3 separate regions of the Homo sapiens genome follow, and regions 2 and 3 are each linked to region 1. Evidence: fine-mapped expression QTL. A gene starts in region 1. Each other region holds a variant in brackets. All regions are shown on one strand. Distances are between the middles of the regions.

Region 1 (10,172 bases):
CTGTAACAGTGATGAGGTACAGGAGTCTCTGAACCTGTGAGAAGAAATGCGTTGCAGCCCTGGCTTTCAGCAGGCCAGTGTAGGAGCTGTGCAAGTCTTTCAACCACTTAGCCCTCAGTTCTTCAGCTATAAATAGGAGGGTTGGTCGGGTGCAGGGACTCGCACCTGTAATCCCAGCACTTTGCGAGGCCGAGGGGGGCCAATCACCTGAGGCTGGGAGTTCGAGACCAGTCTCGCCAACATGGAGAAACCCTGTCTCTACTAAAAATACAAAATTAGCCGGGCATGATGGTGCATGCCTGTAATCCCAACTACTCGGGGGCTGAGGCAGGAGAATCACTTGAACCTGGGAGGCGGAGGTTGCAGTGAGCCAAGATCATGCCATTGCACTCCAGCCTGGGCAACAAGAGTGAAATTCTATCTCAAAAAGAAAAAAAAAAAGGGAGAGAGAAGAAGGTTGAGCAAATTGTCTCTACAAAGATGTCTTATAGTTTGTTTTTATCTTTTGTAGCTAATATTTATTGAGTACCTATTATGTGAAGTGAGTACCCATTTACACATATTGATATTTTTAACATTCTATGATTTCTAAAGATCCCATATATTTAAAGCAATACTATATAAATTGTATGAGGAAACTTATTTACATAGAAGAAATAAGGGAAAAGTGAGCAGTACTTTCTTTCATTTCTCAACTGGTGTTTCTTTAAGCCAAAATTTTGTCTCACCTCACCCTTCACTTTTAGTTTTATAGGGAATTTGGTGTCTGAGCCAGAACATCAAGACTTGTAGCGTAATTTTTTGTTGTTATTTTTGGTTTTAATGTAAAGAATAGTTGCAGAGAGAAGACAGTTTCGGGTCCATCCTAGGAGTGAGTTATACAAGCTTTCAACAAGTACAAACCAAACATTCACCCTTTTAAAATTCCATTGTAAACAGGCTTTATGATGTATATATTGTTTTCAGCTGTTACTGTGCATGTCTATTGCAGTTTGCATTTGGAAAGTATTTTTATAATTATTTTGCTGACTCTGGTGATAACCTTCTAAATTAAGATTCAGCCTCAGTAATGGATGTTTTGACCCCACTTGCCAAGTCCACAAGCAGGAAATGAGTGAAGACCTCTGGTTGGAAAAGAACCTTTCTGTGTGTTTCTGGCAAGTAAACTGTCATCACATTTAATTGAGATTTGAGAAATGGGTAGCAAAACAGCAGTGAATGATGGCATTTGCAAATTAGTTGAAGCCAAGTGAATTTTTGCCTAGAGTGTTCCGACTGAAAAAATAAATATAAGGAAAATCGATGTTAGCAGAGAGAATCTTTCTTGTTTCCCTACTGATTTTCCATGAAGTAAAGTGCACATATTTGATTCAGCTTAGAAATCACTATCTTTTTTTTTTTTTTTTTGGCCCCCTTTAAGGGAATCTGTAAAATTTCAGATGAGATGTTGTAGTGGAAACAATCTTTGAACTTACTGTACTGATCAAATTAATGACTCAACCTGTATCTTCCCCTACTCAGCCCCTAATATAGATTTTTCTTTTCCAAGGAATGATTTCAAATGTTTCTAAAGAGTGAAAAAAAAGCTTTTCAATTTTCCTCCCTTTCCACTGTGATACGGACTAAATCATCAATATCTATTTCTGCCAGTAATTCACACTCACGGTTATCAATGAGCTTATGCCAAGCTCTGTTCTCAGCACATTCTTGTTGTGCTGTTATAAAATTTAAGTATGTGAGGTCAGTGCAAAAGTAACAAACAGTGAAAGAATGTTACCTAACAAATGCTTTATTCTAAACATAATCATCTATAATATATATGTCTAGAAATCTGTAATAAGACAGTTCTGTCTATCCCCAGTGCAAATGTTTAGATTAGTTAGATTTTTAGAAAATTTGCCATATAGTTAATATTAATCTTTGATTATATTAATATTAATATAGTTAATGTTTGAGAGAACATTTCATATTTTCCAGATAACTCAGTAATGTTTTGGCTTTATAATTACTTTAAATCAGCCATATGGAAAGATGATTAAGAACCTGTTTGTCTTTTCACATTTACATATACATACAGAATATGTATACATATATAAAAGTTAAAATTTTCTCTGATCATTCTCTAGATCAGTAAGTTACAGTAAATATTAAGCTTCACAAAGTAATGGGATTTTTTTCTATATCTAATTTGTTCTCGAGTCCAATGATAAATAAGGAAAGAGATGATAATCCTTGTCATAAAGGACAATTGATCTTTTCTTCTTTCTTTTTTTCTTTTTCTGAGACAGAGTCTCGCTCTGTTGCCCAGGCTGGAGTGCAGTGGTGCGATCTCAGCTCACTGCAAGCTCCGCCTTCCAGGTTCACGCCATTCTCCTGCCTCAGCCTCCCGAGTAGCTGGGACTACAGGCGCCCACCACCACGCCTGGCTAATTGTTTTTTTTGTTTTTGTTTTTGTTTTTGTTTTTGTATTTTTTAGTAGAGGCGGGGTTTCACCATATTAGCCAGGATGGTCTCAATCTCCTGACCTCGTGATCCACCCGCCTCGGCCTCCCAAAGTGCTGGGATTACAGGCGTGAGCCACCACGCCCGGCCTCTTCTTTCTTTCTTTCATCTTTCTAGCTTTCTTTCTTCTTTTCAAGGTCTGTGGCTAGATACTAGAATTTTAGAATCAACATTTCCACTATGATTCTATTTAACTTTCCAGCTTTTACACTGGATAAGTCTCTTTATAAAATCAAAGGTGTTCTCATTTAAAATTAAGTTTATTTCCAATGCTGACATAAAAGGTCTCACAATTTTCATTGCTATTTTCAGCCATGGAGCTGCAATAAACCCTTCTAAGTTTGTGTGCATAACAGGTATGGAATATAGTCATCTCCCCTACCATGAACAAAACAGGAAAAGAAAAAAGGGTTTCAGGAAAAAAAAAAAAAGAAACATGTCTCATTTTTAGAGGTCAAAAGTCATTTTCATCCCCTGAAAATGCTTTGAAAGTGGTCCAGACCTCAAATTACCATAATTTTCACCTACCCCTATGTAAGAAAAGGGAAGTAAAAGCAAAAGGAATCATAAACATCTCGGTGCAGGACGTTCTTACTTTCTGTAGAATCTTTGTGGTTTCCAATCCCTGCATGACTTCCCAGCACTTCTGCATCACTCTTCCCCTTATTCTTCTCTAATATGTTTCACATTGATTTTTTTTTTCAATTCTCTGCTGACTGCACATTCTGAAAATGCTTTGACCTTAAAGTCAAGATCAAGTTTGCATTCCTGGAGTAAACAAGAAAGAAAGATGGAGAAGAGAACTTAAAAGAAAACCATTTGACCAAGAAAAACTATGGAGCAAAATATGTATCCTAAGAAAAGGGAGAAAACAGTGTCTTTCTTCTGAGGTTTCTCTTTTTTTCTAAATTTGGCATTCAAGGTGAAGAATATTAATATAAACTACCAATGAAAGAAGAGAAAATTTTCCTCAAGTACTATTTGTATGGAGACTAGTCTGGCATTAACCATTGCTATCACCATGTAGAATAACAGATCTGTTAGAATGAAACTTCTAACCATACTGTTATACTCAGGTAGTGTACTGGAAAAGCAAGAACCATACATTACGGCTCCAAGAAAAATAGAAACAAATTAATGCTGGAAAAATATGTGTAAAAACCCACAAGTTTGAATAATCTTCTAAAATTGTTTTAGGTTTTATAAAGACTTTATCTCTGTCTCAGGGCCCAGCTACAGTAAACTGACAGTTAACTGCTTAAAAAGAAAGTACATCTTGAAACGTTCATAACTTTTCATTTATAACAAAGGCAGAAAAACAATCACATTTATAAGAAGATATTTTTTCTTTTTATATCCTACTCTGAAGCAAAATTCTGACACAACTAGCAGAAGGTACTTTAAGACTCCAATGTGACACATTAAATGTGGACATCCAATGCAAGATTAACTCAGTTGAGTATCTGGGAGAACTTTGTGGTTTTTGTTTGTTTGTTTGTTTGTTTGTTTTACGAAGTCCCTCCACTGAAATACTGTGTCTTTGCAAAAGCCTTTTCATGATCCAAGTTTTAATTTAATGTGATATTATCCAGGAAGCAGTTTCAGTAATAGGTTTGTGTTCACATGGACAACCTGGTTTGGCTTAGACGTTTGTCATAGAGTATGTGGTAGATCTCTATCCATTGGAAGCATGCTTTTACTTGGATTAGAAACCTACATAGGATATTTGGTGAATAGTATTGGTGCTTACCTGACATTCATTGCCTCTTCTTTCTTTTTTTAATAGAATCTAATTTTGTCCACATATCCATCTTTCCTTCTCATAGTCATGAACCTCAACTCCAGGGGTAGTCTCATTGGAATATAGATTTACTCGTTGGTCTCTATTTCCCTTGCAGTAATTAATTCAGGAATGGACATGTGATCTAACTGTGGACAATGAGACAGGGGGAGAGGCTGTCAGAAAAATTTGAGAAAAAGAGAGAAGCGGCCAGGTGCAGTGGCTCATGCCTGTAATCCCAGCACTTTGGAAGGCCAAGGCGGGAGGATCACTTGAGGTCAGGAGTTCAAGACCAGGCTGGCCAATATGGTGAAACCCCGTCTCTACTAAAATACAAAAAATTAGCCAGGCGTGGCGGCATGTTCCTGTAATCCCAGCTACTTGGGAGGCTGAGGCAGGAGAATTGCTTGAACCCAGTGGGTGGAGGTTGCAGTGAGCTGAGATTGCACCACTGCACTCCAGCCTGGGCGACAGAGAGAGATTCCTTCTCAAAAAAAAAAAAAAAAAAAAAGAGTGAGAGAGAGAAAGAGAAGCCTGAGAAGTGACTCTTTCTTCTCCTGGGTATTATTGCCCATAAGTATACTGCTTAGATCTGGCATAGCCTTCTTGCTACCATTCTAAAGAGGAAACTAGCTCAAAAGATAGCAGAGTGAAGAAATATTTTGTGTAAAAACCTAAATGTCATTGAGTCACAGTATCAACCAGCCATGAGATTCACCCTACGTGAGTCTTAGCTATGGGAGAAGTTACTATTGTCATTTTAGATACTTGGCCTCTGGGATTCTATTCTTTGCAGCCAGTAGCAGGCTAACCAATTTCTCTTGGCTTCCTTCAATTGTATCCACCTTCCTGGCTTAGGCCTTTCAGAAGAAGACAGAGTCCTAAGCCAATGTGTTTACCCTTGATTTTAACTTGAAACTTTCTGCCATTAACATGGGGAACAAGATAAATTTATAGAAATAAAAATAATATGATTTAACAATACCAAAACATTAATATCTGAAATGTATCTTGGAGGGATTGCTTCATGTGCCTGGCAGTGTTGTCAGCGTCAGGCTGCCGAGTAGAGATGTGAACGACAAAGCATTTAAATGATCTGTGTTGTCATTTTTGCAACACGAGCTCACACAGATGATGGTCGATTTAATAAATCAAATTGGACAAAAAAAAATTCAGTCTCTCTCCACAACCTTTCTCAAAACTACCGTCAGAGTTTTCTTCTCCCCTCAACGACCTCTTGGGCAGATCCACGACTTTCTGTTTACTTTCAAGTACTATAGAACTTATTTTCAGGAATCAAAAAACTCTAACCCAATCAGATACCAAAACTTCAATTTATTCTTGAAATCAATGTTTTTCCTCCCCAGCTCAAGTGCATTTGTGTCTTTCTTTGTTGTCAAATGCCCTGTGTAGGACAGATGTTCCAAGAAGTCTTTTTCATGAAGTACCTCTGTTAATTCTTTGGAGACCCTTTCAGGGACTCATACATTTAACATTTCCTGATGCATTCAAAACACTCTCTCGTTAATCTTTTGTAAGAACCTTGACTCCTGTACCAGAAGGTGCTTGGGATTCCTTCATTCCAGCATGCACCCCTCTTGCTGTGAAATGGTGGGAGGCCCTTCAAATAACTTGCACTAACTTGCACAGTGCTACTTGTCCTGCAGGAAAATGAACACATCCTCCCCCATCATGTTCTCAAACTTCAAGCACTGCTGCCTTTTGGCCTCACTCTGTCATGCTGCGCATCTTCAGCCACCTCATACCTGTGATTTCTCCTGCAGAGTCAGGCACCAGGCCCTGTGCTGCCCACATTCAAGCACTGCCTGGCTAAACACTGAAGCCATTAACCACATGTGTCCATTGAACACTTGAAATGTGCCAGTCCAAATTGAGATCTCAAAGCTTTAGTATTAAAACACACACACACACACACACACACGCACACACAGAGCAAGATGTCTCATCACTAATTTTTATATCAACCACGTGATAATATTTTGGATATATTGGCTTAAATAAAATGTATTAGTAAAATTAATCACCCATTTCCTTTCCCTGTTTTTTAAATAGGCTACTAAAAAATAAATTACATGTGTGGCTCACATCATATTTCTATCGGCCTGCACTTCTCTAGAGCCTTGGACACAAAGAATGCCCCCGACCAGAGCACTGGCATCGCCCAGGAGCCTCTTAGTAGCAGAGAGCTTGGACTGGCAGTAGTGCTCAGAATTGTCATTTTAACCAGATCTCTGGGTGAAGTTCTGATGTAGGATAGAGGTACTTATTCTGAGGTCTCAGCACTCATGTTGATTCTTAACAGTCTGTTACCAGTTCATGACAAAATAAGTGCAGGAATTAAGAGTACTGTTCAGAAATTTTTATAGCAATTTGATGTTACAATACAGAGTATGTAACCTCTGAACATTGTTTCCATTTCATTTTTCTAAAAATTCAGTTCTAGTAAATCTATAAACCTGTCACTCCATGATGGACTGGAAATTGAAACAGGTTGGTCCTTTATCACAGAAAGTTTGCAAAGTCCTGCTCTAGAGGGCACCCTTCAAACTCTCTGAGGAAATTTCTCGAACTCTGTAAGATGGCAGTATTCCCCACTAGTGAGCCTCTCTGTCCTCACCACCTTTGCTCCAGAGGGTTTTCTCTCAATTTCCTCTCTTGGATCAAGACGAAGTCACATAGCAGCTTACCCTTCCGTGCCAAAGTGCTCTCTTTTCCTACAATTTTCTTCCCGGCTGTTAAATGTGTTCTTTGGAGTGACAATATTTGATGATTGGCCAACACCTTAACACATCCTGTGGGGAACATGTCTAAGTACCTTTCTTCAGAATGTGCAATGCAATTGTCACAGGTTACCCTCAGTTTTGGACGTTAGCCCAAATTCCAAAGCAATGAGAAAGTTCCCAGTCTGTATCCAATCAAGGCAAAGACTCCCAGCTTCTCTGGGGAACTTATTTTGGGCTCTGGCATTTTCTGTTTTGTCTTTTCCCCCGTCAAAACACTCCTCCAATTTCCCCACATGAGTTGAAGTAGTCTTGGCAATCAATCCTAATTTGAAAGTTTTAACTGGAATAATATGTAATCTTTCTTAAATATTATACTCTAGGCTTCTTCTACATTTTAAGGAAAATCTTGTAGACGTGCCCAACACATTCTATTAAGATATAGATATACATAAGTTAGTGCATATCACGTATTCCTTGTATGGGAATTTAAACCTCTTTTTTAGTCAATTTAATGTCCACAAGCAGTTCACCATTTAATCTTATGGCTTATTTTGTATAAAGAAAGTCTTCTTCATTAAATGAAGAACCGCTTTCTAATTCTCAATTTTAACAACATAATCACAGATTTCCTTGCACCAAATTTATTTAAAGAAAAACACACCTGAGTTTTCAGTTTATACCCACATTAGTATTTTATTAATAGTTTGAATGTTAAGTGGCAACCACATTCCAAAAACCCTGAAAAATTCATAATTTCTTTATGGTTTTTAAGAGCTTTGCTTCTTGCCATGATACTTTCAATAGATTTATAAGTGTAAGCAATTCATTTTTTTTTAAAGAAAGTAATGGATATTTATTGATTTCTTAATATGCACTAGGCACCCTATTATAATGTACTCTTTTGTACTAAATCTACAAAAATGAATAAAACATGTCCTTCCCTTGTGTAACTCAAGAGTCTGGGTGATGAGACAGACTCCTACACAGAAAATACAACACAATATCAGGGGTTATAAGACAGTATTTTGTGCAGGATTCTGTGGGGGTAGAAGGAAGGGGCCCTTAACTCCTAAGGAGATTAGGGAAAAGCTTCCTGGGGAAGATGATGCCTGGAACTAGAACTAGAGGGAATCATAGCAGGTTTTTCAAGTTAAAAAAAAAAAAGTTTGCAAAACATTCAAGGCAGTGGGTACTGCATGATTAAATATTCAAAGGCATGAAACAGTCTAAAAGTTTTAGAGCTAAGTAGGTTAAAATGAGGCCGGAGAACAGAGAGAAACCAGGTGATGGAGACCCTGAATGTTACACCTAGGAGCATGAACGTGACTCAACAGGTGTTGCAGGCTGTGAAAGTGGTTCAAGCTTCTAACGCCATAGTTGCCCATTAGTTTCTCTTCTGGTCTAATTTTGCAATTATTTACATAGAAGATCTTTAATATAAACCTTTGTTGAGTTCAAGGCCACATATAAAAATCAGAGAGAATGATAGCGTCAGTGAAACAAGCAATATATAAAAGAAGCAGGAACACTCTCTAGCTTCCTTCATGAGTAAGAATAATTGCCTTAACTGTTTTTGGCACTAAGTCCGTTTTCATATGGCATTCTATTTTCTAGAGTGACTTTGTGACATAGATTAGGCAGATATCATTTTTTCCACTACAGTTGAGAAAGTTGCCACCAAGAGAGAGAAAGTCAGAACAGTAGTAAATGGCAGAAGAAGAAGATGGAACCAGGTCTTTAAGCTGCAGATGCTTTGCTCTTCTCTTTCACTAGGAAATGGAATCTATGTTAATGAAATTCCTTGCCAAATTTAAGAGGTAATTGTTGATAACGAATGCCATAGGTAACATTACCCTGACACACACGTTTTGTAAATTTGTCTAAACTAAGTTTGCTATGTATATGATACTATTAATAATGATTAAAAACTAATAATTTATTGAGCACCAGAAAGTGACTATTTTTCTTCCTTTGTTAGTGTTTTCTTCTACAAATTTTCTTCTAAGAATGGTTTTAGCTACATCTCACAAATATTGATATTTTGTGCTTTTATTATCATTTAGTTCAAAATATTTTCTGACTTCTCTTATAAGTACTTCTTTGATCTATGGGTTATTTGGAAGTGTGTTGTTAATTTCCAAATATATGAAAGTTTCCTTGAGATCATTTTGTTATTGATTCCTAATTCAGTTATACTGCGGTCAGGGAACATACTCTGTAAGATTTTAGTCTTTTCAAATTGATTGAGATTCCTATTAAGGTCCGGAATATGATCTAGGTGAATAGTCCATGAGTACTGGAAGGAATGTGCACTCTGCAATTATCAGGTACAGTGTTCTGTCAATAGTGATTAGGTTCAGGCAGTTGGTGATGTTCAGATATTCTGTATATATAGTCTTCCTCAATTTTTTGTCTGCTTATTCTGTCAATGAGCAGACAAAATTACTGAGAGATTTCTAGAACATCTAACTGAAATTCTAGATTTATATGTATTTTCCTAAAGTTATGCCAGATTTTTACTTCAGGAATTATGAAGTTCTTTTATTTGATGCCTACACATTTAAGAGTTTTATGCCTTACTGATAAATTGGGCCTTTTATTATTCTGAAAGTATCCTCTTTACCTCTGGTAATGATCTTGGTCTGACAATCCACTTTGTCTGATATTAATATAGCCAGGCCAGCTTTCTTATGTTTACTTTTGGCATGGGTTATCTTTTGCCATACTTTTAGTTTTAGTCCATGCTATTGCCCTTACTTGCAGCACCCACTGGGGATGTAGAGAGTTGGAAAGAGTGCTGCTCCATCTTTAATGCAGAAACAACAGCAACGAAGGACATATGTATCATTTCCAATGCTATTTACTCCATTCCACCGTCCTAATTTCATTTTCTTCAGGTGGAAGAACTTCCCTGAGTACTTCTTACAGCTTAATTCTGCTGGTGACAAATTCTCTCACCTTTTGCTTTGTGAAAATGTCCGGTAATGCGGGTCCACTAAAGATGAATTCTGAATTCTCTCAACTTCTGCTTATGTGAAAATGTCTCCACGGCACCTTTAGATTTTATTTTTATTTTTTAATGACAATAAGGAAATAATACATGTGTCAGGTAATGGATGTGCTAAATACCCTGATTTGATTTTACA
Region 2 (10,172 bases), 12 kb after region 1:
AACCTTTTATCTCTTTATTGTATTCTGGGTTGACACAAATTTTTTAAAAATAGATTCCAGCCTTTTATTTATGTATTTATTTATTGGAAAAGACATTTAAGCTAAGTGCAGTGGAGCACACTTGTAGTCCCAGCTACTCAGGTAAGTGAGGCAGAAGGATCACTTGAGCCCAGGAGTTAGTTGAAAGGTAGCCTGGGCAACATAGTGAGATGCCATCTCAAAAAAGAAAAGGAAAGAAAGGAAATTTCCTACTTTTCTCACTATTATTCATGTCTCTCTAGAAGCAAATACTTGTAGAAAAGTTAGAGATAAGGGATAATAATCTTCTTCCTCTTCGCCTCCGTTTCAGTCTCTCTCACCTCTTTTCTTCATGGATGAGTGAGCTCACAATTCTCCCTTCAACATAGATACTTTACAGGAGCAAAATGAGGAAGTAAAAATTACTACAAGAAGAAAGTACGAGATCAGGCCATATTATCCAGCATTAACAAAAAAGTTTAACACATTTCTATGGCCTGTGATATCTTTAAATATGTCCATAGACATCATTTTGGGTGAACTCTACAGCCAATTTGACTATGAAAAAATGAAGAAAGAATGATTATCTCCATTAAACAAATAGGGAAGCTGAGGTTTCATGGGACCTAAAGAAAAGAGAAAATAGAGGAGAGAAGGCATCTTGCTTTCTAGCAATTGACATCCTGTTTTTGGCCTATCCACCAAAATATATGCCAATCAATTGAAGCATTATTAATGCATTACCAACATCAGGAAAATGCTAGAAATATGTATGTCGGATGAGTGTTTCTCGTTGGATTTTAAATATTTATCATTAGACTGCAGTATATATAGGTTCTTCGTTTCATCTCTCCAGAATGAGAATTATTCACAATAAACTTAAGCTTTAAATTCTTATTTAAACAATTGAGTACCCCCCCAACAGTATTTGTTGACACTTCTCTTGAGCTATTTTCTTTCTACTTCTCCGTGTAACTCATAGCCTATTAAGAAAAATAAATTTGAGCCAAAATCCTCAATTTAACAAAACAGGGAAAGAATTAAAATTATATCGTTCAAAACAACAATGATCAAGCAACAAAGAACCCTCAGTCAGAGTTCAGAGGATGTTTATGCACTAAGAGGAAACGCTGTCTTTGGCATGAAGAGGGGTTATTGAAATGATCTAATTTCAGACAAGGTACATAACTGAAGTTGTAGTCCAAGTTTATTGTAGTTCAGTATCTTTTTAATTAGGTAATTTTAAGTTTATAGTTTTGAATCATCAGGGAAAAAAATTGCAACATAGTCTGTTTAGAGTCAAGGCATGCTGCTGACACATTCAAAAAGTCCCGAACCTTCATAAATAAACACTGCCAATGTTTATTTCAAAACATCTGAGAACAAGGAAAGAAGAGATTCTCTGAATGCTTCAGATTGGAACTGTTTGTGCTGAGTCATCTTTATCTGTAGATCCCTTCTGAGATACAGTGGAGTGTGTTCAGTACCTACCAAATGCACAGATACGAATAATTATGGAAGGAGAATCTCATTACAAAACTTTTTTTCTACCTAAAACACTGCCAAAAAAATCTGGAAAAATAATTTTCTCTATAACTAGGTAAAATGGTTTTTATTTTCAGGGCTCTTAGAAATAACTTTTTCGAAGAGAAAACTTATATAAATTGAATCTGGAATCTTGTTTCTTCATTTCTCTTACATTTGGTGGGGAGGTTTTTGTTTGTTTGTTTTTTGTTTGTTTGTTTTAGACTTACCATGACTTTATAAATTGAGTCTATAAGGCTAGCTTCTGAGGTTATTTCTCTCTACCTCGTAGAAACTGATTCAGTGGTTTTCACCAAGTAAATGGTGGGGATATTTTGACTTCACTGGCCAAACCACTGGACAATACCTTAGCCTTGCTAAAGGGAAAATAGCAAACAATTTTCTGTTAGTATGTGTTATTCCACAGGAAAAGATTATGAAAGCTGTAACTTTTGTCATTCTATAGCTAGTGTACAGTCTCACAAATATTATTAGTATTACCTCTCAGAGTTTAATTAAATATTATGTTCATGTCCAGGAATAAACAGAAAATAACATTGTACACATCCTGAAATTTTCCTTTTAATAAGCTGTCCAAAGGTATATGCATTGTTCTCAGAGGTCGGGACTTGAAAGCAGCTTATGTGATTTTCTCTCATTTCCTTCATGCAATTCAGCATTCCAGAAACATTTATTATCAATTAGTATTGAGAGGTGACAGCGTGCTGTCAGCCCTCGCAGCCCTCGCTCGCTCTGGGCACCTCCTCGGCCTTGGCGCCCACTCTGGTCGCACTTGAGGAGCCCTTCAGCCTGCCGCTGCACTGTGGGAGCCCCTTTCTGGACTGGCCAAGGCCTGAGCCGGCTCCCTCAGCTTGCCGGGAGGTGTGGAGGGAGAGGCGTGGGTGGGAACCAGGCTGCCCAGGGCACTTGCGGGCCAGCCGAGTTCCGGGTGGGCATGGGCTCCGCGGGCCCCACACTCAGAGTGGCCGGCCAATCCCGCTGGCCCCGGGCAGTGAGGGGCTTAGCACCTGGGCCAGCAGCTGCTGTGCTCGATTTCTCACCGGGCCTTAGCCGCCTCCCCACAAGCAGGGCTAGGGACCCGCAGCCTGCCATGCCTGAGTCTCTCCCTCCTCCCCCCGCCCCCGCCCCCACCCCCGTGCCCAGAGGAGCACCGCCCCCTGCTCCACGGTGCCGGGTCCCATCGACCGCCCAAGGGCTGAGGAGTGCGGGTGCATGGCTGGCAGGCAGCTCCACCTGCAGCCCCGGTGCAAGATCCACTGGGTGAGGCCAGCTGGGCTCCTGAGTCTAGTGGGGACTTGGAGAACCTTTGTGTCTAGCTAAGGGATTGTGAGTGCACCAATCAGCACTCTGCCTAGCTCAAGGTTTGTCACACCAATCAGCACCCTGTGTCTAGCTCAGGGTTTGTGGATGCACCAGTTGGCACTCTATCTAGCTAATCTGGTGGGCACTTGGAGAATCTTTATGTCTAGCTAAGGGATTGTGAATGCACCAGTTGGCACTCTGTGTCTAGCTCAAGGTTTGTAAATGCACCAATCAGTGCTCTGTGTCTAGCTAATCTGGTGGGGACTTGGAGAATCTTTGTGTCTAGCTAAGGGATTGTGAATGCACCAATTGGCACTCTGTATCTAGCTCAAGGTTTGTAAATGCACCAATCAGCACTCTGTCTAGCTTAGGGTTTGTAAATACGCCAATCGGCACTCTGTATCTAGCTCATCTAGTGGGGAGGTGGAGAACTTTTGTGTCTAGCTCATGGATTGTAAACACACCAATCAGCACCCTGTCAAAATGGACCAATCAGCTCTCTGTAAAACAGACCAATTGGCTCTCTGTAAAATGGACCAATCAGCAGTATGTGGGTGAGGCCGGATAAGAGAATAAAAGCAGGCTGCCTGAGCCAGCAGTGGCAACCCTAGGGCCCTGTCCCATTCCAGACTGTGGAAGCTTTGTTATTCGTTCTTTGCAATAAATCTTGCTACTGCTCAGTCGTTGGGTCCACACTGCCTTTACAAGCTGTAACACTCACCATGAAGGTCTGCAGCTTCACTCCTGAAGCCAGCGAGACCACGAACCCACTGGGAGGAATGAACAACTCCAGACGCGCCACATTAAGAGCTGTAACACTCACCGCGAAGGTCTGCAGCTTCACTCCTGAGCCAGCGAGACCATGAACCCACCAGAAGAAACAAACTCCGGACACATCCGAACATCAGAAGGAATAAACTCCAGACACACCGCCTTTAAGAACTGTAACACTCACCGCGAGGGTTCGCGACTTCATTCTTGAAGTCAGTGAGACCAAGAACCCACCAATTCTGGACTCAGTATGTTATAGACCCCATACCAGGCCCCGGGAGTGGAGAATGGGCTATGATCACTGCCAGCAAGATTGCCATTATCTAGCAGATAGAAACAGGTTTGTAAAGAAAAAGTTAAGTATGTGTGATAAATCCATAAGATACAATGAGGATTCAAAGGAAAGACATTTTTGGAATGTGCTAGTAGAATCGTTGACTCTTAAGTAGAGTAGGCTGGATTTTTTCTTGATTCTTCAAATAAATGTATTCTTCTATGACATTCTCAAAAAGACTAAGTTGAAAATAATTTTAAAATATGAAACTGGAACAAATATTAAAATTTTAGTGTTAACTCATACTCTAAAAGCAGATCATTTGTTAACTCTATTTTATGCAAAATAACACACCTCTTAGAAGAGATACATTTATAAAGTGTCTTTCATTTTTATAGCACAG[C/A]GTGTTCCATTTAGGGCCAGTCTCGCAAGTTAGAGTTGGGAAATTTTCCCATAAGAATGACACATAGCTATGTCAAGGAGTTTGAAGACAAGCGTGTTTGCAATAGCACCCACGTAGAGAGAACAGAGTGATCAAAAATCAAAGGATCAAAAAAAGAACGCTCAGTTCAAATAACTGCAAATTAAATCTTCCTTTTTGCCAGTTAAGGTTCTTCACACCAGATTCTACCTTTTTGTGAATAGATTTCGCTTGTGTTTTCATTTTCTTATGTTATCACAATTCATGGCTGAAGGAAAATTCACGGCATGGCATCCCTCTTCAGATGTTGATAAAAAAAATCTGCAGACTTGAAACTTTTTTTTCTGTCTAAACAGAATTCTTTTTTCCCTTTGAGTCCTTTCATGCTCAGCTCCTTATCTGAGTTCAGTAGCAGGCATATTTCCTTAAGGGCATCAAAATGTACACTTTTCTCACTAATTAGGCATTTTAATAGCTAAAGCTAAGAAAAAAAACACTGAGAATACCAAGTGTTGGTGAGAACAGGAGCACCTGGAACTTTTTTCTGTTGCTGTTGGGAATATGTAACAATCCAACCACTTTGGAAGATTATTTGGCAGTCTCCTGAAGAATTAAACACACCCCATGGCTCACCAACTCCACTCTTTGATATGCAACTAAGAGAAATACATGCATGTGTCTATCTTAAAAATAAACAAAATGAAAATTTATGTTAAGAATATTTATAGAAGCTTTTTTATAGCCATAAACTAGAAAAAAAATTGAAAGTTTTTCTAGTCTTCACCAGAGTGAAGGGCTGCTGACAGTTCTCTAGTTCATCAATCGGAGAATGGATAAATACCATGTATATCTACACAATGAAATACTTTCAGCAATTTAGAAAGGGCAAATTACTAATACATCAATGTAGATGAACCTCAAAAATTCTGTGTTAAATAAAAGAAGGCAGAAAAAATACATACTGTATTATGTAATTATTTAGCTGAAGAATAAACAAAACTAATCTATGGAGATAGAAGTCAGAACAATGGTTTCCTCTGAGGTGGAATATTGCCTGGGAAGGGGCATGGTGAAGCTTTCTAAGTTGATGGAAATTATCTTAATCTTTATCTAGGAGTAATTACAAGAGGATGTAGATATGTTTGAAGTCAATCAGCTTATAAGTTAAGATTTGGGCATTTTACTGTAGTAAGTTATACTTCAAGAAAGGAGACTGCAAAATTCCTAAATATTTTTAAAGAGTCTAACTTTTATATTGGAGAACAGCAAAAAACATAAAGAAAATATGTGACTGAAGTTTTAATCAAAGAACGTAAAACTTCTCCATGTCTGGCAAATCCAATGAGTCAAGTAAAAAGGCCCAACTATGATTACTTCCTGCTTAAAAATGAATGGTTAAAAACTGAGAAAATAATCAGTGTAAACATGAGGATAACTGTTCAGTGAAAACCTTGACTGAATTTACAGATAAACTGGTCTGATTTTCAATCAGAGAAGCTAGCTACTTCAAGTATGTTAAGCAAAGTGGCCTAGGATATCCAAGAAGAAAAAGTTGGTGAACTTTGCACAATAATCTGAATTGGCGAGTAGTGGTACTCAGCTGTGACTGTAAACACCACAGAAGAGAAAGATTCATGGTATACAGAACTTCAAGGTCATCTGCGTCTACTTTGCGTGAAAGGGGAGTTGGTTGGGGTAAGAAGCCACACGTTTATGAGGAGAAACTAGTGGTTTGACTGGACCGTCAGAGCCCTTGAAGAAGAAAGACTGAATGGCTGGTGACAAGGAAGTCTGATCTCCCCATTAGATAAACTTTACTACTGATATGAAAGTCTGCATAGGGATTCCAGGGAAATTCTTTTTTTTTTTTTTTTTTTTTTAGACGGAGTTTTGCTCTTGTTGCCCAGGCTGGAGTGCAGTGGCGTGATCTCAACTCCCTACAACCTCCACCTCCCAGGTTCAAGCGATTCTCCTGCCTCAGTCTCCAAAGTAACTGGGATTACAGGTGCCTGCCACCACACTCGGCTATTTTTTGTATTTTTAGTACAGAGAGGATTTCACCATCTTGGCCAGGCTGGTCTTGAACTTCTGACCTCGTGATCCACCTGCCTGGGCCTCCCAAAGTGCTGGGATTACAGGCATGAGCCACCGCCCCGCTCCTGGCCTCCACGGAAATTCTAACATTTCATCTATGCCTCCCAATACAAAGATGTTCCCTGAAATATCAGGCCTATTGTCCTAGGCAACCACAGAAACCTTTCCCAATACCACCACCTCTTTTTTTTGTCATTTGACTCATGGGACTACAACCAGAAAGTCAAAAGGGGATCTTCCATGTCCGCGGGGTCTTAATTCAGACTTCTGGCGGCAACATTCTTCTGTCGCGTACAAAAACCACTGAAATAAAGGATCCTAGAGTCATAGAGGTGAGAAAAAAAAAAAAAAAGCCTTGGAAGTGGATGATTAGGTGTAGTCAGCAGACACATCACGCATTCTCCATTCATTGTTCCCAGATCTAGCCTTTCTAGCCAAGGGAGGAACCTAGGCAGTTCAGTCATAGGAATAATAGAAAATGACTAAGACTTGGTCAGTGGAAAACGCAACCAAGATCCCCGCTTCTACATCTCTCTTTCCTGCACCCTGCATTCCCATGCCACGGCATTTTAAAGCAGCCCTCTGTTACAACAGCCCCCTGCTCCCTGCTCTGCTCATATTCCCTCTGCTGAAATGTTCTTCCCCCAGATATCCATGTGGCTCATTTCTTCATTTCCTTGAGTCTTTGCTCAAATGTCACATTCCCAGGAAAGTCTGCCTTTACCACCTTACTTAAAAATTGCAAATCCCCTGGCCCCTGAACCCCCCCTCCACCAACTTAACACCCCGGGTCCGTTTTCCTCTGCTTCACTAGGTGTCACTAGCCCTTATCACATTGTAGCATACTACAGAATTCACTTATTTATGTATTTATGTTTATTTTCCATCTCCTTCCACTAGAAAGTAATCCCCATCTTCTTTTTTCACTCATGTATTCCTGGTCCCCATAACTGCAGCTGGGACTCAATCAATGCTCGCTAAATATTTGTTGAACTATTCCGCTGAATAAGTAAATAAATTCCACAGACTGAAAGCTATGAAGGTGCAGGGACTAATGTGTATTCATTTTTGTATTCCTTGCAATCAGTGTTGTACTTGGCACATGCTAGGCTCTCAAAAAATGCTTGTTGAATAAACGAATGGATGGAAAATTTAATCCCAAATTGAAATAGCTGAATGTATTTTTTCTACTGAAGTGGAGATTCCTGCACAGTATAGGTGGTAAATCAGAGGAAGGAGGAATGATACAGTAATAGTAACAGTAGCAATAACAACAACAACAACACTAATAATAGCCAGTTAGTGGTAATGTCTTATCTGTCAAGCCTGGGGTTTGATACATATTAGCCCCAGGCCCCACATTCACCCTGCAAGGAAGGTATTAATATTATTAACTTCATCTTATAGATGAAGGCATTAGGGATCAGAAGGTTTTAACAACTATTTAGGGTCAAATAGATGGTAAAGGCAGCTGGGATTTAAAACTGGAACTACTCCCGTTAAAGACAAAGCGCCATTTTGCATAATACACATTTTGCTCTTCAAATCTGGAAACCAAACAGTGTTTTTCTTCCCGTGACACATGTGCTGATGTGGCAGAAATAACAATTCTGGCAGCATTTACCACCCAGCATATTAAGGCATTTGGAAAAGAAGGTAGCCTCATGTGAAAGAGTTGCTGTCCTCAAAAACTGAACAACATAAACATAAATTGAGAACTAAGGGGAGTAGACCTCCCTGCGGTGGTTCAAGAAAAGTTTCCAAGAGGTAACAAATATGGAGGAAGTATTCAAATGTATATTAGAGATGAGGAAGAGAAAAGGCAGTATATCAGTAGAAACAGAAAAAAGTGGACTGAGCCTAGTAGAGAAAAAGAATAATTTATTAAGCTGATGTGCACTGTATATAAAATCATTCCTTCATACATTCAGCCATCCAACACCTACTGTGAAATTCCTATGTTCAAGGCACCTTTTTGGGTACTGAACATAAAGGAAAACAGTCATGAGGAAAATCCCTTCCCTCATGGAGCTTACATTAAAGGGGGGGAGGCAAAGACAGAAAAATAAAACGTAGGTATAATATAAAGTATATCACATGGGACTAATGCTAAATAGAAAAAGCAGAAAAAGGAGGTCAGGAATATTGGGGGTTGTAATTTAAATAGTGTGCCATGTTAATATCATTTGATGCTATCAAAGAAATTGATGCATTTGGGCAAAATTGTCAGACTTTTGTAAAACAATTCAACCTTGAGCTCTGTTTGGCTGCTCAAGATTTTCTCGTCCTTAAATCAAAGCTGGCAGTTCAAGGAGGTGATGTACTGTGCCTCTGTACTTGAAACCTCTTCACTGATTGCTCTCAGATGAGAATAATAGCAGAACGCCAGCCAATTTCTAGGCTGGTGAGAATCTTGGGGAAAGAGAGTTTTAAAAATATTGTGCCCCACGGAGTCACCACAGTTGGTGAAGAATAACAGTGGCTCGTTAGGCCAGCCAACATTCTAGCCTGACCACTAAGTGTCATTGTGGTCCCAGCACACAGACCTGGGTCAGGAAGAGAAAAGAAGAGGCATAAAATGCAGATCATGAGCAATGAGCTTCATCATATTTGATAGGTCATTTCTAGAGAATTACACCATTAAGGAACGTGGGAGTGCAGAGTAGCAGATGTACAGAACTTCAGAAAAACAGCTTGTGTAGTGCTTTAAAATTAGTTAGGAGCTTAATAAAAATTGACATCTATATGGACACTATCTCATGGTTGAAAAGCCAGCTGAAAGGTTGAATAGACTGTAAACGAATGAAAATAAATGGATAGCAAGTCATACTGGGAGGAGTTCAGGTTGGCATTTGAAGAGCTCTTATTTAGCATGAGAGCTTGGTGACTAAGCTATTACATTGGGATAAATAGATTGGGAATGAAATGTGCAAATGAACTAAGCTGGCAGGAATCATTGGAAAGGTAGGAAACCCTATACCAGGGAATTGTTTATATTCAGATTTAGAAAAGGGCTGCTTCTGAACATCTGTTTTCAGAATATATAGCAGCGTCATGTGGGCTGGAAAGTCAGGAACAGGCTGCACTCATGAATGGAAGAAAGGCAGCTGGCACAGGAGAAGAATTGAAAGGCACTAAGCTAGGTGGGCTTGGCAAACTGATGATAAAGCATGAAACAATCTATAAACACTTAAAAGATGTGAACACCAAGGAGAGTGCAAAATTACTTATCCTGATATCCTAGGGTAGACTAATGGGAGGAAAGTTTAAAAAGGATAATTAGAGTCAAATAATTTCTTTAAAAAATTGTGAGCCTCGCCATTTAGACTAAGAAATGACTCAGGTATGCATCATATTATTATTTCAAGACCCACTGCTCAAATGTCATGATATTTTGGTGGGGTTTTATATGTTTGTTGTTGTTGTTTGTTTTTGTTTTTGTTTGAGATGGAGTTTTGCTCTTTTTGCCCAGGCTGGAGTGCAATGGTGCAGTCTCAGCTCACTGCAACCTCCGCCTCCCGGGTTCCAGTGATTCTCCTGGCTCAGCGTCTCGAGTAGCTGCTTTTACAGGCGCATGCCACCATGCCTGGCTAATTTTTGTATTTTTAGTAGAGACAGGGTTTTGCCATGTTGGCCAGGCTGGTCTTGAACTCCTGACCTCAGGTGATCCACCCACCTCGGCCTCCCAAAGTGCTTTGTTGTCTTTTCGACTTCTTCTCTCCCACATTCCCCAGGGCAGAATTAATC
Region 3 (10,172 bases), 360 kb after region 1:
CCTAGTAATCAAGGAGGATACTTTCTTTTCCACTGCTACTCATGCCCTTTCATTCATTTATGTATTCAATGCATAATTTTAATCACCTGCTACTGGTACACCCTCTGCTAAATTCCTTTTTTGCCTATAGAAATCTTGCCCATCTTAAGCATTCATGTTTTTTTTCTGTCCAGCACCCTTTTCCCTCTTCTTAAGGAAATACCCCCGTCCTGGGATTGCCACAAGCTGGCCTATCATGGTTTTCCTCCTTGGCCCAATACCTGTTCCATGTGGTGGGTCCATCACCCCAGACAGGCCAACCAGAGTGATGTCTTAGGCTTTTTCAAACTGGAGCTGAGAGAATGACTTTTTTCCCTCTGGACTTAAGGCTTTAAAGATGTAAGCATAAGCAGCTAAGAGCCTTAATTCCAGCCACCAGCTTAGAAAATTCCGAGAGAATGAAGAAAACAGAAGACAAAAAAAAAAAGGAAGAAAGCTCCTGCTTCAGTCATGCCCTGCTCCAACCCCGGCCTCTCTAGGGCCTGATTATATGAGTCAATAAATGTAACCCTATTTGCTAAGTTAATTTGAGGTGGTTTTCTCTAGGTGCTAATCAAAGAGTTCCAGCTAACACAGTATCTTCCCAGACCTCATTGAATTCCCCATCTCCTTATTCTATAGGTCAGCCAGACATCCTTGGAGCATGATTGCCGACGCTATACAGCTTGCCTCTGACAATGTACGCTTACCATTGCTGCATAACTCTTCTTCCCAAACATCATGCTTCTTCATGCCACAGGCCTCATTACTAATCATGTAGTAGAAACTCAATAAGTGTGTTGAGATAAAACAAACACCAACTTAAATTATAAAAGCTAGAAAGAGTCTTAGAGAATCGGTTTAAAATTCTCTGCAAACTCAGAAACATGTAGCGATTTTGTTTTCTTTCTCTAACAACATTCCCTGGGAGGAAAGCAGAAAGATAGCCACATAAATGTGTACTGCAATTCTTCTGAGTTATCACAAAACAGCACAATATCAAAACAGTTCACGGATAAAAGTGTATGTGTATAAATGCACCCAGCCATATCTTATTATAAGGGAGTATCACACTCAGGATTCCTGACTCTGAATGTGATTAATTATCTCCAGAGACAAAAAAGCGTAACACATAATTTAAATTTTATGTGAATTTAGCAATAGACATTAAATCTTTAAGAAGCACGCATACCTTGTAACCCAGCAATTCTGTTTCTGGCAATTTGCCCTAAGACAAGAATTTGGAAATGTTTAGAGATTTAGCCATATTAGTTTTTATTCAAACATTGTGAAAAATTGCAAGAGACTGAAAAATACCAAGTAATCCATTCATAGGGAATTAGAGAAATTAATGACCTATTCATACAATGGGATTCTATTTGAAAAAAAAATCACATTAGAGAATAATACTTGCACTATTTTTAAGTGAAAAAAATTAGGTTGCAAAATGACGTATATATAGAGTGGTCCAATGGTCCAATTTTAAGTGAAAAGAATTAGGTTGCAAAATGACGTATATATAGAATGGTATGTGTATACTTAAATGTACATAGGTATACACACGAGTGAACTGGAAGAACAGACATCATAATGTTAATAGTGTGTATCTCTGGGTTGTAGCATTATACATGAGTTTCACTTTCTCTTTTTTGCTTATTTTTATTTTGGGAGTTCTCCACCATAAACATATATTTATGTAATTCGAAAGAAACAAGAACGAATATTTTGTAAACATACAGGAAAGTGTTCTAAGAAAACATCTAATCCAAATTCCTCATGTTGCAGAGGAGGAAACTGAGGCCCAGGCAGTGCTATAGCTTGCCCGAGGTCCCACAGTTAGCAAATGACAAAATTAGCACCCTACGCCCAGGGCAGGGTTCTTTCCACCAGACCATTCAATCCCCACCATGGGTATTGTGTTTTAAAAGTCCAGCTAGCTGGGCACGGTGTCTCACGCCTGTAATCCCAGCACTTTGGGAGGCTGAGGAAGGTGGATCACCTGAGGTCAAGAGTTTGAGACCAGCCTGGCCAACATGGTGAAACCCCATCTCTACTAAAAATACAAAAAATTAGCTGGACATGGTGGAGGGCACCTGTAATCCCAAATAGCTGGGCTGAGGCAGGAGAATTGCTTGAACCTGGGAGTCGGAGGTTGCAGTGAGCTGAGATTGCATCATTGCACTCCAGCCTGGGCAACAAGAGCAAACCTCCGTCTCGAAAAAAAAAGTCCAGCTAACTTCATTTAACTCTGCATTTGGAAAGGATCATTTTAAAACAGCACATTCATATACGAGAATGATAGCAAACAGAAAAACACCCTTGAATTTCATCTCATGCTTGGGTTTCGGTGCTTTACAAAAATAGTGTTGGCATTACCTCCTGGCATTGTATTATAGGATGGGATTTATTATGAAACTGGGACCAAATTTTTCAGTTTGGAACAATTAATAAGCATAACATAGGTTTAGAATTAGTGAAGTCATATTTTTGCAGCTGCTGTAGAATTCTTCCACAGCTTAATTTGCTACCTTTGTGATTTTAACAAATGAAAAGATGTATGTTCATTTATAATAATTGGCTATATGCTTCCACTAGATTACAAAAATTTGATGATTTTCAGGAATCATAACAAACCATGACCTATAAATTCAATTTCCAATGGTAAAAATCCCCTGACCAGAGTGGATGCTGATGACGAACTAATAATGTGTTCTGTAACAATCTGTTTTGAGCACTCAATTGACCTGTAAGTGTTCCAGATACTGCCTGATGAAAATGGGTTTTATTATTTTCCATTAGCAGCTGCTACAGCAAAGTGAACGGCCAGTCCACAAGGGAAATAAAAGTGTTTCCCTCTTCTCAGTCGCCTCTGCTGCAAACGTAAACAAAACTACCTTCTTCCTTCCCCTCCTCCCACCTCTGAAATCTCTACATTCAAGGACCACGACTGGCGAATCCTGCCTGAGTATGTGGCATCTAATTAAAACACAATGGGGCATCTACTATGTGTTCAGCATTTTGCTGAAGTGGTGCAAGGGTGAACGGAGACCTCGCACAGGGAAGCAAATCACTGGAAAAAGTGGTTCCTGCATTCAAAAATGTCATTAGACTTGCCAATTGGTTCTTTTCATTAAAATAACAATAATAGTTTCTTTTACCGTTGTAGTGGTCTGCTTTATTCTTCTTGTTTCTTGCATTTATAAAAAGTTATTCAGTGCTGTTTTTTCTTCTACACAAGTCTTCTTTCCACTTTTGGCATTTGCATCCTGTAAAATTATGCTCTTTTTGGCAAATATATACATGCATAAGGGAGGGGGGCGTCCACAACCATTTAAAGAAATTATTTCTCCAAGGATTTTTTCCATTTCCTCCCAGAGAGACAGAGAAAAATCTCACCAAGGTGTCATACAAAAACAAACAAAAAAACCCTCCATATACTCCTCCTCTTCTGGTATTTTTCTTCCTGCCTGCTAAATGAAGGCTTGACCCAATGTTCCTTTCCCTGCCCTCTCCTCTCTCACTGCTGTCTACTGTCTCCCTGGATGATCTCATCTAATTCCACAGCTTCAACACTCACATAGTACATGTGATTCCTAAATCCCTCTCTCATCACAATCTCTTTTCCCAGCTCCTAGTCTGCATTCTCAGCTGTCTGCCAATCCTCTCCACCCAGACGAATCCAGGATACCCCAAGCCGAGAAGTCCAAAGCCAAAATCTGTGTGTTCACCTGTGTTTCCCTGTTTCTGTTCAAGGTACCATTATCTTCCCAGTCTAGATCAGACAGGCAGACATCTTTACCTCTCTCTTCTCTCATGCCCTTTACTCAAACCCATCAATTCTCTCTGCTCTTCATTGATATCTTTCCCTTTCTTTCCATCTTCTCTCCCACTGTCCTAGTTAAAGCCTATTATACTCATTTGGACTTTTACCACAACCTCCTAACTTTCCTACTTTAAGTCTTTGTCTACTCTAATTCATTTTATACATTACTGACAGATTAGCACAAATGCTAAAGTGTAGTTCTGACCATGCCTTCCCACCACTCGCAAGCTGTCCACATCCACTGCTTACTTACAAAAGAAAGTACAAACTTAGAGAAGGCCTTCCATGGTTTGGTTGCTACTGACTTTGTTAGCCTTACTGCCCACTATGCATTGGAACATTCCCATATTCCAACTAAGCAGGAGTGTTCACAATAAACAACATAGGCTCTTTATTCTCCTTCTTTCACTAATTTTCTTTCACGTTATTCCCTCACCCTGAACGCCCTTCTTCCTTCGTAGTGACATTTTAAAATCCACTTTACACATTCGGACCAGCTCAGATATCATTTGATGCCTGTGACAGCTTCTCTGTTACTTGTACACTTTTTGAACTTTCATACTGTACCAGTGAATTAATTCTGACTTCAAGTGATACTACTCACTTCACATAAAGTAGAAGGACCTGACACTGGTACATCTACCTCCATTTCTTCCTTCCCAACCTTTGTCCTATTTTGTCATGCATTTGACCAAATACACATTATAAATCCCACAATACATGATTATTAATTTCGCTGTAACCATTTCGATCATCTGTTAAAGACACCAAAATAAGAAAAAAACAAGTCTTTACATTTACTCACAGTCTTAGTTTTGCGTGGCTATAACAGAATACCTGAGATTGAGTAGTTTATAAATAAAAGAGGTTTATTTAGCTCATAGTTCTATAGGCTGAGGAGTTGAAGGGCATGGCCCTGGCTTCTGGCAAGGTCTTTTATGCTGCATAATAACATGGCAGAGAAGGTCAAAAGAGATGCCAACATGTGGAAAGAGACAAAACCAGAGGGGTGTCCTGGCTTTATAACAACACACTCTCATGGGAAACTAATCCATTTCCATGAGAACTAATCCAGTCAGTCTTGTCAGAACCAGAGCTCACTTACAACCATGAGAATGGAACCAAGCCACTCCCAAGGAATCCACCCCCATAACCCAAACACTTCCCACTGGGCGCCACTTCCCAGCACCACCACATGGGGATCAAATTTCAACATGAGTTTCATTGGGGACAAACAAACTATATCCAAACCATAGCACCCACATATTTCAATTTCTAATGCATTTAATCTGCACTAATTTTACACCACCACTGAGGCAAATCCCTCCAAATACTCTATCAAAAGCCCCATGAATTATGATGTTTTCTAGTCTGGCCAGCAGGAACAGGAATAATATCAGCCCTGTGAGAACTTTGAAGATGATTTCTTCTGCTTCTTTCAGCTAGTTCTTTCTCCTGCCTGAAGATATTTTTCTCACAAGCATGCACTGATTGGTATTCAGCTGAAGACTCAAGGAGGACCCTTGGCAGGTCTCCAGAGTCCTCTCTCTGTACAACTCTCTCCTTTACAGCAACCTACCTGCAAATTCTAGCTGCTCTTGGAAGTAAATGCTCTGTGCTGCCAAATGAAAATAGCACTCGGGCAAAAGTTTTCTCAGCAAGGCAATTTGCTTCTATAGAAAGGTACGTCTCATGGATGGAGCAATGGCAAGAGCACACCAGACAAGGGAGGGGAAGGAAGGCCTTATTCCTAATGCAGCTAGTCCCTACTGCTGTGTCTTTCCCCTATTGGCTAGTATTGGACCACGCAGTCTAAGCTAATTCTGACTGGCTATTTTAAAGAGAGTGAGGGTACAAGCCAGAGTGGCAGGGTGAGTAGTTTTGGTGGGAGGGATGGTTACAGAGCAGGTGACTAAGGATGACTGAGGACAGAGCAGGTGACTAAGGATGACTGAGGACAGAGCAGGTGATAGAGGCTAAAAGGGAGTTGTTTACTGAAACTAGGGGCAAGGAGATGTAAAGAATGAGGAAGTCAAACTTTAAAATGGAAAATGAAGTACAGGGAAGCTGAACATACTGCCACATTGGTTCTTTGGAGAGGGACTCAGAACTCATTGTACTTAACAATTTTCTCCCTCTCGAATTTTAAGGGAAGTTAACAGGCTAAACTTTGAAGAGGAATTTACTGTATCCTACATTGCCTTGGCCTCCTCAACTCAAGATAATTGCCAGGCTCTCCCTAGGTTCCCTCTCCCTCTCATGGCCCGGAAACTCTCTCCAGGGAGTAAGTTGGGATAATCACAAAACTCAGTCATCTCATTTGTTGCCCGTCTCTCAGGGAACACTGAAGTCTAAAGTCTTGAAAACTGTTTTGTCTTGTTTTATTTTGTTTTCATATATTGGATCCATCTTTTCAGTTGTTTCAAGCAAGAGGGTAAATTCAATTCATGTTGTTCCCTCTTGGCTAGCAGGTGAAGTTTTGTAAAATCACAAATTTAA[G/C]GATCCCTTTCAACCCCCCTTACTTGGAAGAAGTTTCTGAACCAGTTGGACCCAATTGACAATTTCAAAGAAGATCCAGGTGCCAGAAACAAGTAGCATACCTCATAGGTAGTGCCAAAACAAGGCCTAATCCTATCTGGGGATTCCACGGTTAAGTTCTCAGTGGCAATTTTTCTCCAAAAAAAATAGTACATAGCTAAAAGTAAAGAACTTTTGGAGACATATCCAGAACAGAGCTTTGAGCACCCAAATCTATGAGATTCCTTTGTATGATCTGAGAACTTGAAGACTCATTTCCTTCACTACAATGAACATTTACATACTAATTAGTTTTTTCAAATCACTCTTTCAAACATGTATATAAGAGGCTATCATACCTGTGATACATCTATTTTCCAATAAACTGGAATCCAGGAAAAAAAATGATATTCTATATATAGGGCCTATACAATGAAAGAAAATCTTCCTTCATTCCTTTACTAATTCTTTTACTTTCTTCTTTTTATCTTTACACTTTAGTTTCCTTTCTTGTCCAAAATTTCTAATTCCCTAACTTTTTCCCCAAGCATGCCTGGGGTTGTTATAGCCAGACAGTAGCATTCACAAATACACCCTCTCAGATTCTATCCCTGTCTCTCCGCACTTATCCTGTACTAAGCCAGCTTTGTAGACATCAAAAGATATATTCTTCAGTGAATGAATCAAGGAAAGAAAGAACTGAATTTTTTATTTCTGCTTAAATGAAAGAGGTAAATTCACCTGAACTGGGAGGAGGCTTATCTGTAGGAATCTTCTAATCTTTTCTAAACATAGAAACAGAACAAAGAGAAAATGTAGGCCAGTTTTACATTAGAATGGAGGATTGGTGGAAAAATTGGGGCTGAGAAACAGACATCAGAAATATTTCCATTTTGAGTTTTACAAAAATAGACTGAAATTATATCTGATAAATGATGGTGGATCCACAATTGATCACTTACTTAAGTTGGTGTCTGCCACATTATGGCCCCCGTACTCTGGTTCACAGATATGAATTAGAGAAATTCTCATTTAGTATTAAATAACACTGGATTACATAGTGAGATAGTTATTCCCTTTTAATTCTCTTCCTATTCTCTGATTACATCAAGATGAGAGAATTGGTTGTTGGTAGTATATCTTAACTTCTCCAACACTTGCTGATCTTTTTTATGCAGAGAAAAAGAAGTCTAGAACATTAGGCAGAAAAAAATTCAGCTAGAATGTTAAGTTTTTTTAATATTATTTGAATTTATTTAATGATTTTTTTTTTTTTTTTTTGAGACAGAGTCTCACTCTGTCACCCAGGCTTGAGTGCAGTGTTGTGATCTTGGCTCACTGCAACCTCTGCCTCCTGGGTTCAAGCGATTCTCCTGCCTCAGCCTCCAGCCTCCTGGGTTCAAGTGATTCTCCTGCCTCAGCCTCCTGAGTGGCTGGGATTACAGGCACACGCCACCACACCTGGCTAATTTTTGTTTTTTTTTTTTAGTCCAGATGGTGCTTCACCACATTGGTCAGGCTGGTCTCAAACTCCTGACCTCAATTGATCCGCCCACCTCAGCCTCCCAAAGTACTGGGATTATAGGTGTGAGCCACCACACCTGGCCTATTTTATGATTATTTTATATTTATGGCAAGAAATATTCCTTTTTCAACCCTTTATATTTGATGATATGAAGACTTTTTATTCATATTTATAAAATGTGTTAATTTAAAGATAATTAAATTTAAAGATAATTATCTCAATTTCCTGAAATGCCAATATACTGTGTAATTTCAATCAATTAATGACATAGGTGGGTTTCCCTGGAGGCAGGCACTGAGACAGAGCTGAGGGTCAGGAAGTTCATTAAGAATCAACACCCATGAAGGGAAGAAAGAGGAAGGAAGATGGCTGCAGTGCAAGCCGGACAAAATATCCGGTAGAATTTAGGGAGCACTGGAACAAGTATTACCCATCAAACTCAAAACTCTATTCCATCAAACTGTCCCACAGTGGGCCCCGTGGCCAGGCCTTTTCACCCATGGCTCATCTGGTCCACAGATGCTGGCTCCCTTAGGAAGGGCGATACCTCAGTCACAGCAACTCTCCTGCTGGGACAGAGCCTGAAGATGCTGACAGCTGGCAGTGGGGCTGCCTCCGCTCCCCGCAGCTGAACTCAAAGTCCTTCCTTGAAAGGCTATCTGGGCAGCATGTGTACATGTCCCCCACAGTTGATCAACCAAATGTCTTTTTTCAAATCATTCTTTGAATCTCAGTTTCCTCATCTGTAAGTGGGGTTGATCTGGATTTGTAGATCTCAATCGGTATTTCAAAAAAGATACACTTTGTCCTCCAGAAACACTGGATTATGGCTTCTCTTTCTACATATAATTTTTAACCTTTTAAAACTGTAACTGCCAGCTGCAGTGGCTCATGCCTGTAATCCCAGCACTTTGGGAGGCCAAGGCGGGCAAATCACGAGGTCAAGAGATCAAGAACATCCTGGCCAATATGGTGAAACCCCGTCTCTACTAAAAATACAAAAATTAGCCAGGCGTGGTGGTGCACGCCAATAGTCCCAGCTACTCTGGAGGCTGAGGCAGGAGAATTGCTTGAACCCAGGAGGCGGAGGTTGCAGTAAGCCAAGATCGTGCCACTGCACTCCAGCCTGGGTGACAGAGTGAGACTCCATCTCAAAAAAAAAAAAAACAAACTATAACATATCGGCCAGGCAATCCCAGCACTTTGGGAGACCAAGGCGGGTGTATCACTTGAGCCCAGGAGTTCAAGACCAGCCTAGCCAACATGGTGAAAACTCATCTCTACTAAAAATACAAAAATTAGCCAGGCGTGGTGACGCACACCTGTATGTCAGCTACTCAGGAGGCTGAGGCAGGAGAATCACTTGAACCCAGGAGGCTGGAGGCTGAGACAGGATAATCGCTTGAACCCAGGAGGCAGAGGTTGCAGTGAGCCAAGATCACACTACTACACTCCAGCCTGGGCAACAGAGCAAGACTCTGTCTCAAAATAAATAAATAAATACACGCTGTGCACATGTACCCTAGAACTTAAAGTATCATAATAATAAAAGAAAGAAGGAAAGAAAGAAAGAGAGAGAGAAAGAGAAAGAGAGAGAGAGAGGAAGAGAGGAAGGAAGGAAGGAAGGAAGGAAGGAAGGAAGGAAGGAAGGAAGGAAGGGAGAGAGAAAATTTTGGTTAAATAGGAAAAATAAATTCAAGAAATCTATTGCGCACAAAAAAAGAAAATAAATAAATAAATAAAACTATAACATATCAGTTATACATCAAATGTACTACATACCAAATTCTAAGACATTGGAGACAAGCAACACATTACTCTAGCACCTCATTAATCAACTGATAAAATAAGTGGGTGCTGTACAAATAACATGCAATTTTTAACCAGTTTGACAGGTTTCAAACCCAATTGAAAACTCCTGAAAACCATTCTCTCTCATCTACTGCTTTCATGCTGTGAATCTCGGAAAAAAGAACCATGATAGAGACTTTGAGTGCACAAAGCCACAGGCTCCCGCCATCTTAACGAGAAGACAAGGTATAAATGTTAAGAAAGATTAATAGCAGGAAAACAGAGCCAATGGAGGCGTGCTAATTATAACTCCCTTATGGCTTCAGAAAAGGGATGAAGGGTTTTACAGATGAGGAGCTTGAAACTGGAAAAAGCTGAGTAACCTGCCCAAAGTTAACATATGCTAAGTGTTAAAATTCAGATTCTATACCAGTTCTCTTGCTTGCCGGCACCCATACACTATACTACCCCCAGACTCCAACATGTCCACTGTCGGTT

Direction of the effects. Positions count from the first base shown, and alleles are read on the strand shown. Sizes are in standard deviations (SD) of each study's normalised expression. Not every link is listed here.
For the expression in cartilage of the gene that starts at base 7,122 in region 1, C is the high allele of the variant in region 3 and G is the other (large effect, 1.0 SD a copy in Steinberg 2020).

The links. PIP is the estimated chance that this variant, and not a neighbour inherited with it, causes the effect. A credible set is the group of variants that fine-mapping cannot tell apart.
Region 2: its variant is the best candidate, but not a certain one, in a credible set for the expression of LINC02015 in fibroblasts (GTEx, PIP 0.77).
Region 3: its variant is the best candidate, but not a certain one, in a credible set for the expression of LINC02015 in cartilage (Steinberg 2020, PIP 0.67).

Annotation. Positions count from the first base shown.
Region 1 is chr3:177,813,815-177,823,986 of GRCh38, reverse strand. LINC02015 (long intergenic non-protein coding RNA 2015) reads right to left here and starts at 7,122. Exons shown (of 3, transcript NR_110826.1): 1 at 6,991-7,122.
Region 2 is chr3:177,801,539-177,811,710 of GRCh38, reverse strand. No RefSeq gene overlaps it. Among named protein-coding and RNA genes, the nearest start is that of LINC02015, 10 kb to the left of the region's middle. The variant C/A (reference allele first, on the strand shown) is at 4,314.
Region 3 is chr3:177,453,001-177,463,172 of GRCh38, reverse strand. The region is part of intron 1 of LINC00578 (long intergenic non-protein coding RNA 578); the gene reads right to left. Among named protein-coding and RNA genes, the nearest start is that of LINC00578, 16 kb to the right of the region's middle. RefSeq lists an enhancer at 5,075-6,274. The variant G/C (reference allele first, on the strand shown) is at 6,341.